Regions from separate parts of the Homo sapiens genome. Here region 2 is linked to region 1. The links come from fine-mapping of genetic effects on plasma protein levels. Region 1 holds a variant in brackets. A gene starts in the other region. All regions are shown on their forward strands.

Region 1 (5,366 bases):
GAGACAGCAGTGTGGGCTCACCCGGAGCAAGACGTGTGAAATCAGCTTTTGACAGCGTGGCTGAATGAGGATCTGGAGATGCGAGGCGCTGGGCAGACTCTCTGACTAGATCCCTGGATATGAAGAGGCAAAGCCAGCTCTAGATGGATTCATAGTGAGTGTCTGCTTCTGACAATAACTGGCAGAAAGCTGATGAGCCTGGAGCAGGGCTGTGAAATGCAAATCCAGTGAAATCCAGCCACTCCTACAAAAACCCACCACATCTTAGGTTACTTGTGGGTGGAAACGCTTTTTCTCTCAGTTGAAGCTTGGTTGGAAGCAGATGTTTCACTTGGGCATTGGAAGGGTCTGGGGAAATGTGCTGCCTCCTAGGCCAGGGACATTAGCCAGAGGCCAGAATTAACTGAGGCTTTAGCACCAGGTGACACCAACTTCATTGAGAAGCCAGCGGCAGTCCATAAAGAGGAAAAACCCAAGGCCTGCCCTGGACTCTGTCCCAGCCATGCTCCCAATTGGCCCTGTGATCCTGTCCATGTCTCTTCCTTGCTGGTCTCTGGCTAACGTCCACAGGTGGCATTCATGGGAGGTTCCAAGTTGGTCATCAAAGACTAAACATCTGGGCTTGGCAGCTGAGCAGATGATAAGCAATTAACTCTGTATTACCATCAGAGGCTCCACCTCCCTCTGTAGTCCCAGTCCCTTGGGAAAATCTCAGAGCTGGAGCCCTTCCCTCATCCTCTGGCTCCCCACCCCATGGCTTCTCGAACAGTGTTCCCACCAGGACCTTGGGACAGGAGAGAACGCCTCACCTGAAGGACTCCCAAAACTCAGGTTTCTCTAAGCTGCTGGGGCAGATGCCAAGAGCCTCCACTGCTCTCTCACTGCCAAGGACCTGGGTGTCCACCTAGATGTGGCCTTCAGGAGGCCAAGCAGTCCTTCCCCTCGCCTTTGTGTAGGACACTGGCACCTCGGCTGACTTCGGGGACAAGAAAAGGCAGGCTCCCGACCCCTTCCAAAGAATCATCTGGGGTTCAAGATGAGGCTTCTTTCTCCCGTCCCAAGTTTTGGTGTTTCTTCTGAGTCTGCTCAGAAAGATGAAATTAGGAGCAGACATCTCAGGTCCTGCCTGCCATAGCAGATGGCTCCTTCCCTGAGCCTCCATAAGCAGCACAGCACACTCATGCACACACCCACTGGCATTTTCTCTCACACTTTCATACACTTGTGTCAACGCAGGTTCACAGCTCACACTTAACTGTGCATGCACACACAGATTTAGCACTTGGATTCATTCCCACACATGCACGTTCACAACCTGTGTGTGTCACCCTTCCTCCCCTACTCATGAGGGTGTATGCCCTGGTTCATACATGTAACCCTCACATGTGACACACCCAGTTCACACCCATTCATGCACACATACCTTCTCTTGTGCACACGTCCCCTTTCCCAGTGGTACACCCTCCTTCATGTGCACGCAGATGCTCCCAGCTATACCAGCTTGCTAGTGTTCTGCACAGGTGCTTGCCTTGGCCCTCTGAATCCCTGACGCTTGGTTTTTCTGTGTTGCAGTCCTCCCGAGAGCTGGATGACAGCAGCAGTGAGTCCAGTGACCTCCAGCTGGAAGGCCCCAGCACCCTCAGGGTCCTGGACGAGAACCTTGCTGACCCCCAAGCAGAAGACAGACCTCTGGTTTTCTTTGACCTCAAGATTGACAATGAAAGTGGGTTCTCCTGGGGCTACCCCCACCCCTTTCTAATTTAGTCTCTGAGTCCCAAAAAGAAGTGCAGGCAGAGCCATCTGCCAGGCCCAGGAGAGCTCTGAGCTCTGGCCAACAACTGCAGCCAGGCTGGGCAGAGCACTCCGGCTCACCTGGGCTCCTGGCGTGTCATTTGCTGGCTTGAATAAAGATGTCCGCCTTATCCAGTGCCTGAGTGTGCGAGAGAGGCAGATGCCTCCACAAGTGCACCTCTGACCAGTTCTTCTCTCAGACAGAGAGCCTGGGGAACACACTCCTAGACAGAAACACAATGCGTGAGCTCATTGCCGTGAGCCCTGTCATCCAAGTAAGGCCTCTGGCTGTGCTACACGTTTCTGAGTAGAGGGCCAATCCCACAGGTGGCTGCACAGGGCTGCCCACAGATCCAAGGTCACAGAGGGATCAGACCCCTTATCCTGGAAGCCCCTCTACTTCCTCCAGTGCTTGCCCTGGCTCTGCAAATGCCCCTCCTTGAGCCAGAGCCCCAGGCCCTACCCTGTGGCATGGACTCAACATTGGGGCTAGCCCAGCCAGACAGAAACAGCAAGTGTTTTCATGGTACAGAAAAGTCATTTGCAGACCTCAGTGGGAGGCTCTTGGCCTTGCTCTGAGTGGAGTGCTTTCTATGTCCCAGGGCTCTGACTGGGCTGGGGTCCTTGAGGGGATTGGAGGAAGGAGCATGGGATGGAGAGCTAAGTTCAAGCAGCCTGGGATCTCTAGTATAGGTGGCTGAGGCTGATAGAAGACAGGAGGGACCTGTATCCATGGGGTTTGGCCAACTCTGGGGCCGGTAGTGGAGGAGGGGAGAGCTGGATCCCCAGCTGGTGAACAAAGTGTTTGGAGGGCAGCCGAGCCTCCCCTTCTGACTGCTATCCCACCACAACCAGGATCAGAGCTGCATTTGGGGGCTGATGTGTGGCTACTGCCAGCAGACCCCAAGGTGAGGTCTCTAGATGGTGAGTCAGCAGCCCTAGAGGACCCCCTGCTCCCACCCCAGAGCTCTCTGTGACCCTGGGTCCTCACCCTGCCCTTCTCTCCTGCCCAGCCCAGAAGATTAGCCAGCTGGCTGCGGTGAACCGGGAAAGCAAGTTCCGCGTGGTCATCCAGCCTGAAGCC[T/C]TCTTCAGCATCTACTCCAAGGCCGTGTCCCTGGAGGTGGGGCTGCAGCACTTCCTCAGCTTTCTGAGCTCCATGCGCCGCCCTATCTTGGCCTGCTACAAGCTGTGGGGGCCTGGCCTCCCAAACTTCTTCCGGGCCCTGGAGGACATTAACAGGCTGTGGGAATTCCAGGAGGCCATCTCGGGCTTCCTGGCTGCCCTGCCTCTCATCCGGGAGCGTGTGCCCGGGGCCAGCAGCTTCAAACTCAAGAACCTGGCCCAGACCTACCTGGCGAGAAACATGAGCGAGCGCAGCGCCATGGCTGCCGTGCTGGCCATGCGTGACCTGTGCCGCCTCCTCGAGGTCTCCCCGGGCCCCCAGCTGGCCCAGCATGTCTACCCCTTCAGTAGCCTGCAGTGCTTTGCCTCCCTGCAGCCCCTGGTGCAGGCAGCTGTGCTGCCCCGGGCTGAGGCCCGCCTCCTGGCCCTACACAACGTGAGCTTCATGGAGCTGCTGAGTGCACACCGCCGTGACCGGCAGGGGGGCCTGAAGAAGTACAGCCGCTATCTAAGCCTGCAGACCACCACGTTGCCCCCTGCCCAGCCTGCTTTCAACCTGCAGGCTCTGGGCACCTACTTTGAAGGCCTGTTGGAGGGTCCGGCGCTGGCACGGGCAGAAGGAGTCTCCACCCCACTTGCTGGCCGTGGCTTGGCAGAGAGGGCCTCCCAGCAGAGCTGAGAGGAGGGGGTGACCAGCTTGGAGTCTCTGGTGGGCAGAGAGGGATGGGGTCCCTGAGCCAGGCCCCACCCATCACAGCATTCCCAGGTCCTGGTACCCAGCCCTCAGTTGTCATTTGGTTCAGAATCAGTTCCCTTTCTCTGGGACCAAATTTCCCTTCTCTAAACATCCTACAGAGAAGGTTCCAAAGCTGAGCACCCATCACCCTAGGTGTGCACCAGACTCCTATTAGCCCCTCCTTCCAGGAGCTAGAACCAGGGAGGTCCTGAGTGAGGAAGGCATGACCTCTGGGCTCTCTAGGTGGCCCTGGTCTTGCCCCATCCATCCCACCTGCCACTACCTTGGGTGTCCTTACAGCTCTGCCCTGACCCCAGCCCCTGCCCCTGGACACCTGCTGACAGCTCCCACACAGAACAGTCTGAGGTGATGCTGGCTACAGCCCTGGCAGCCCATGGCAACTCAAAGTGCCTTCCAAACCAAACTGCCCCTCATGAGGTTAGGGTCCCCCACCCTCCACCTGCCCAGAGGCCAACTCTGTTCCCTTCTCCTTTCATCCCAGAGGGGCCTCATCAGCAAAGACAGAAACTGATGTTCCATGCATGTCCCTGCTTCCAAAGCCTGACCTTCCAAAGCTTGCTTCCTTCCTCCTGGCTGCACAGACACCTCTGCTTGGCCACAGCTTTGCTCTTTGGTCCTCAGGCCACCAGACCCCTCACAGCATGGCCCTTGGCTCTTCCTGCACTGCCCTCACCCTCAGCCGTCCCAAGGAGTGCCCAGCACTACTCAGCATGTAGTCCAGGACCTGCGGCATCAGCATCCCCTGGGAGCTTCTTAGAAATGCAGACCTGTGGGCTCTACCACAGGCCTCTGGAATCAGAATCTTCAGGGTGGGGCCCAGCAGTCTGTGTTTTAACAGGTTCTCCCGGTGATGCTGGTGCATGCTCAAGTTTGAGAACCGCTGCTCTCATAGACTGCTCCTCCAAGGGGAAGCAGTGTGGAACAGCAGAGAAAGTCCCGTCCCTATCTCTGACTGTGCAGTGAGTGTGGCCTAGGAACAGGTCCCTTCCTAAGCTCTAGTGTCCCCATCTGTAAAATGGGCTGATTGGCCTCCACGGTCAGAGCGGCCATCTGGCTGTGCCATCCTGCATTTTTAGGAATGGAAAGCAGGCCTCTGAGGCAGTGGACAGGAAGACTTCTCATCCTTGAATTCTAGCTCCCATTCCAAACTGTTAGTCCCCAACCTTGTGGTCACATCAGAGGTCAACAGCAGAACAGAGGCAGGTCAGGGTTGTCCGCTCTGATTAGCAGAACGACAGCCCCTTCCTCCTCCTCCCTCCTTCCCATCCCTACTCATTAGCTCCCTGCTCCTGGGATGCTTCCCAAGCAGCCCAGGCCTCTAGCCTCCATGGCTGATGACCTCAGCTTTCACACTGGTGAAGTCTGTGTACCCATACTGCAGCCCCATCCCATGGGGCCCCTGAAGACCCACTGAGGAATTCCGTAGGGTCTTGTTCCCACGACCGGAGTGCTGGCTCTCACAGTGAATTTTGATGCATTTAAAATAAGATTCTGATGCCAGACTGTTAAAACAGGCGCTGGTTCTGAAGCACCGATGGAAACAGATTGATGCAGATGGAAGGAGGAAGGGAGACTGGGCCCACTGATTTCCAGCCCCACCATGTGTGCTGTTTTCAGATGTGATTGAGGGGTGTTCTGCCCTGCCTCCACTGTCACAGCCTTTAATAAAGATGTGAATCTTGAAAGCCTGATGCTC
Region 2 (5,366 bases), not on the chromosome of region 1:
TTTAAGCCACTTAGTTTGTGACACTTTATTACAGCAGCCCTGGGATTTATTTTATGTTATTTATTTATTTATTTTCTTTGAGACAGAGTTTTGCTCTTGTTGCCTAGGTTGGAGTGCAATGCCATGATCTTGGCTCACTGCATCCTCTGCCTCGTGGGTTCAAGTGATTCTCCTGCCTCAGCCTCCCGAGTAGCTGGGATTACAGGCATGTGCCACCATGCCCGGCTAATTTTGTATTTTTAGTAGAGACGGGGTTTCTCCATGTTGCTCAGGCAGGTCTCGAGCTCCCAACCTCAGGTGATCCGCCTGGCTTGGCTTCCCAAAGTGCTGGGATTACAGGCGTGAGCCGCTGTGCCCGGCCAGCCCTGGGATTTTAAAACAAGTACCTACTATGCGTCAGGCACTGGGCTCTGGAGATACCATGGTAAACCAGGGGGACAACTTCTTTGCTTTTGTGGTGCTTATCTTCTCATTGGAAAGACAGAAAATAAATGAGTAACAGAATGTTGGGTAGTGATGAGTGCTGCAAAAGGAAAAGCCCAGCTAGGGGGCTGGGGCATGTGTGTGTAGTGTGTGTGCATGCGTGTGCATGCATATGTGCATTAAGAAAATGAGAGACAGGGGAAAGCAGGTATACTTGACCCAGTCTCCAAGCCTCAGATTGGATCAAGACACAGCCTGGGCTGCAAGGAAGGTGTGTGCACTAAAGAAACATGAGTAAAGGCCGGGCGCGGTGGCTCACGCCTGTAATCCCAGCACTTTGGGAGGCCGAGACGGGCGGATAATGAGGTCAGGAGATCGAGACCATCCTGGCTAACACAGTGAAACACCGTCTCTACTAAAAATACAAAAAATTAGCCGGGCGTGTTGGCGGGCGCCTGTAGTCCCAGCTACTAGGGAGGCTGAAGGAGGAGAATGGTGTGAACACGGGAGGCAGAGCTTGCAGTGAGCTGAGATCGTGCCACTGCACTCCAGCCTGGGCGACAGAGCGAGACTCCATCTCAAAAAAAAAAAAAATAGAAAAGAAATGTGAGTAAAGGCTGGGCACCCATGTGGCAGCGATGGGGCCAGTGGTAGGGATCTAAGAGCAACTCACTCTAGGACAGTGGTTAAGAAACAGGCCGGGTGCAGTGGCTCATGCCTGGAATCCCAGCACTTTAGGAGGCCAAGGTGGATGGATTGCCTGAGCTCAGGAGTTTGAGACCACCCTGGGCAACATGTCAAAACCCTGTCTCTAACAAGATACAGCAAAAAAAAGAATTTAGCTGGACCTGGTGGCGCACACCTGTAGTCCCAGCTACTGGTGAGGCTGAGGCAGGAGAATCGCTTGAACCTGGGAGGCAGAGGTTGCAGTGAGCCGAGATCACACCACTGCACTCCAGCCTGGGTGACAGAGTGAGATTCCATCTCAAAAGAAAGAAAGAGAAAGAAAGAAAGAGAGAGAGAGAGGGGGAGAGAGAGAGAGAGAGAGAGAGAGAGGGGAGAGAGAGAGAGAGAGAGAGAGAGAGAGAGAGAGAGAGAGAGAAGAAAGAAAGAAAGAAAGAAAGAAAGAAAGAAAGAAAGAAAGAAAGAAAGAAAGAAAGAGAAAGAAAGAAAGAAAGAAAAGAAAGAGAAACAGCCAGGGGCCTTGAGAATAAAATGCACTCTCCATAATTGGCCTCCCTGGCCCTGCAACATCAGGCCCTGCCCACCTTGGCCACCTGGCACAGGCCCTATTTGTCACATGTCATGCTTTAGCTTTGTTAACCTGTTTTCAGGTCTTCTTGAAATACACCATGCTGGTTCCTTGTATATGGACCCTTTCTGCTTGGAACTGTCCCCCCACCCTGTTCCCAGGCTTCCTCTTCTCCATCCCTGAGGGATGCGCTACCTCCCAGGAGCTTTTCTGAATGGCCTGGGCTGGCGTAGGTCCTCTTCCTGACACTCCCCTGGAACAGAGATTGTCACCAAGTGGATGCCCAACAAATATTTGTTGAATGAATAAATGGGTAGATGAATGAAGCCCAGACTCTGCCAAACCACCCTTCTTTACTTGTTCTTCCCCAGGCCCACTGAGATGTTCCTCTGTCTGCCATGCCTCACGGCCTGACTGACCGTACCAGTGAACCCAGCGTACCCCTGGCCCTGGCAGCCGGACGGCTGATGCATGCAAAGCGGGCATCTCCTTGCCCAGCCGCCTGACCGCCCTGGCGCGGCCGAATCTGAAAGCTAATGACATTATTGTGCAGAGACACAATGTCTGTGGGCATTTGCTGACCCGAGCTTTGGTGAGAGCTTAATCCAGCATTCTCACCCTGCTTTTCGCAGGAGCACAGCGGTCACTCATCTTGGCACCGGCACTTCTGGGGAAGGTATAAATGCCACCTCCCGCTGGCCGAGCTTCACGGCACTCGCAGGGGCTGGTGTCACTGGTAAGATTGCCTCTCTTGCTTGTCTTCCCTTCTTTCTCTCATCCTCACCCCTGTCCGCAAGCATGGGAGCACCCAGATTCTGACAAGTGACTTTGGGCAGAGACTTCAATGCTGTTAGCCTCAGTTTTCTTTTCTGGTAACTGGGAAGGGGGTTAAAAAGCCTTCTTTATTGTAAGGATTCAAGAGAAGTTAGGGGATCATCCAGCACAGTGCCTGGCACACAGTGGGCATTGGGGCAATGTTCTTTATTATTAATATTAAACAGACTATCAGCATCCTTGTTTCGCCAGTCGCTGAGGAGGAGAATGTAACTGAGGGTTTTGCAAGAATCAAACCAGTGACAGTTCAGCATTGTTTCTAGGTGGGTGAGTCAGTTTTCCTCCACATCTGCAATTAGGGGGCACCCACTCTGTGCCTAGCCTCTGGGAGTGCTAGGGGATAGGATGCAGCCACAGGTATGTGACAGGTCCCAGCAACAGGTGATTTCAATGCCACTAAAGCATGGTAGAAATGACTCTAATAATGCCACAATTGCTGCCATTTGCTGCATGCTGAGTGTGTTCTGGGACCACGGCCAAGTGCTTCCGGTTTTATACATTACATAATTGAATCCTCACAACCTGTTCACAGGTATTATTAGACATCATTACTGTCCCCATTTTATAGAACAGGAAGTTGAGGCATAGGGAGAGGATGAGACCTGCCCAGAGTCTCAATTCTGGCAGGCAGCAGAGACTGCTCCTGAACTGGACCAACTGAGCTTCTTCAGTCTGTGAACACTCAGGACTGGGAAGTGATATGGCAGGACCTCAGGCACTCTGACAAGCCCAGAGGGCTGGTTTCTTGCGGGAGAGCAGTAGATTTGGCTGCCAAGGTGCTTAACTGCATTTCTTCCTCCTGGGAAACATCCAGTATTGGCCTTTCATGTGGAAGGGGCTTCTGGAAGCTGGCGTTATCTCTGAAGAGGGAGGCCAGGCTTCCTCTCTTACCCCTGGGGAAACACAGCCTGGTTTGACCACCCCTTCTGCAGGAAGGGGGAAGAGGCTGACAATTTTCCAGGCTTTTCTGATGTTCTCACTAGCTAAGGCAGGTCTACCCTGCTGCCTGCCACAGTGCCTGGATTTCTACCGTCGCACCCATTTCTTCTCTTTCTTGTAATGTGGGTTCTGTATCAGATGATTTCACTAATGGGGGAGTAAAACCAGTGGCAGAGAAGAGAAATCTAGGTACCAGGATGGGGAGAGGAGTCCCAGGGAGAGGGTGGGAGAAGGAGCAGGGGAACAGGGAACTTTGTGAGTTCCTAAACTGGGCACCACCACACCACCAAATACAGCCAATGCATAGGTTTTGTTTGTTCCACACAATTTTATTTAAGAAATTACTGCATAAAGGCAGAAGTTCTGGGATTGACCATTCTATATTCTGTGTGGTATCCATTGTCTGGGGTTGAGTGTTGGGAACCCACTTTGGACCTCATTTAAGCTCTAGTTTATTACTGCTCTCTTTCTTTGAGTAGACCTCGTTTTTCCCTCCTCCTGCAGCTGGCCTGGATAGAAATAAATGAAGCTAAGGACAGAAGTTGAAGTAGCTGCTTACGGACCCCACAGCTCTGGGACAGTCTGAAACCAGGAGAAAAAGAGAATGTTTGGGGCCAGAGGGGAGTGGTCTCAAGGCCCCACAGAGTGAAAAAGCCAGTGGCCCCTCCAGGTCCTCACTGCTGCTTCCCATGTCTTCCAGGTCATTCCTGCACAGGACAGTCCACCATGGCCTCAGATCACCAGACCCAGGCGGGCAAGCCACAGTCCCTCAACCCCAAGGTGGGTACCTCTCAGAGGAGGGGGCATGCAATGCTCCTCCCCCAGACTTAGTTGCCCTTCTGTAAAATGGGCTTGGCATCTTTCTTCATGGGTACCCCCTCTCGACCCCTGCCCCTCTCTGGGACTCAGTCTCCTCTACCCACACAGTTGGAGCTGATACTGAAAGTCCCTCCCCAGCCCATAGCTGGCATGCTGGGATTCCCAGTACCAGCCTCTGGCTTTGGAGACTTCAGTTTCTCTCTCCCTTACCTGTTTTGCCACACCCTATTGTCTACAGGGCTCCCTGAAACTGGAGCAGACCCTCATTCTCAGTCAGAGATGGGATTAGTAGATGGAAGGTGGGTGTGAGTCCTGGCTCTGCACCTGCTGTGTGATCCGGGCCAATTATTTGATCCCTCTGAGCCTCAGTTCCATCTCTATAAAAGGAGGAGTCAGATTTATTGCACAGGGAAGTTGTGAGAGCCAAAGAAACCAGGCTCAGCCTAACACCCGGCCTGGGGTGCGCATCCACCTAACACCAGCAAATAATGCCGCCTTTGATTTCTCATCCACCTGTCCACCCAAGGGCGGCAGGATCTTATCCCAACGTCAGAGGCTTGTCACACCCAGTCTGCCCTCAAACCTCTATCTAGGCACGGCCACCTGACTGCCCTCCTGTGCCTCCCTGCTTTGGTAGCCCCGGGCACAGGTTCCTTCAGGAATGGCCCCTTTGTCTGACTCAGTGCCTCCTGGGCCAGGGAAGCCTGAGCAGATACAGCCCCTCACCTGCTCACCCCAATCTGTCCCTTTTAGGGCTTACTTTCCAGAAGAAGGACAGACAATAAATAAATGAATATATGATTTCCAGTAGTGAGAAGTGCTACAAACAATTGTAAACTAGGGGAAGGGGCTCCTGAGAGTCACAGTGGTTGTGTTAGCTCAGGTGGTCCAGGAGGGTCTCTCTGAGGAGCTGACTTTGAGCAGACACCTGGGTCAAGTGAGGAAGCGGCTATATGAAAATTGGGGGTGCCTTTGCCAGGCCGAGGTGGGAGGACTGTTTGAACCCAAAAGTTTGAGCCCAGCCTGGGCAACATAGTGAGATCCCATCTCCACAGAAAAATGAAAAATGGGGGTCAGGGTTGATGAGAGCATCCAGACA

Alleles and levels. Positions count from the first base shown, and alleles are read on the strand shown. Strength reflects both the effect of a copy and how common the allele is.
For the plasma level of the protein whose gene starts at base 2,384 in region 2, allele C in region 1 goes with a lower level than allele T (weak association).

The links. PIP is the posterior inclusion probability: the model's chance that the variant is causal. The UK Biobank Pharma Proteomics Project read protein levels with antibody pairs (Olink). The fine-mapping took linkage between variants from a reference panel, not from the people measured, so its PIPs are less certain.
Region 2: CRYBB2 starts here. The variant in region 1 is fine-mapped to the plasma level of the CRYBB2 protein (UK Biobank, PIP above 0.99).

Annotation. Positions count from the first base shown.
Region 1 is chr15:74,041,417-74,046,782 of GRCh38, forward strand. It overlaps PML (PML nuclear body scaffold), which reads left to right. Exons shown (of 9, transcript NM_033238.3): 8 at 1,573-1,723; 9 at 2,805-5,366. The coding sequence ends at 3,592. Among named protein-coding and RNA genes, the nearest start is that of GOLGA6A, 38 kb to the right of the region's middle. RefSeq lists an enhancer at 1-392 and a silencer at 4,947-5,138. The variant T/C (reference allele first, on the strand shown) is at 2,876.
Region 2 is chr22:25,217,256-25,222,621 of GRCh38, forward strand. It overlaps CRYBB2 (crystallin beta B2), which reads left to right and starts at 2,384. Exons shown (of 6, transcript NM_000496.3): 1 at 2,384-2,411; 2 at 4,149-4,228. The coding sequence starts at 4,175.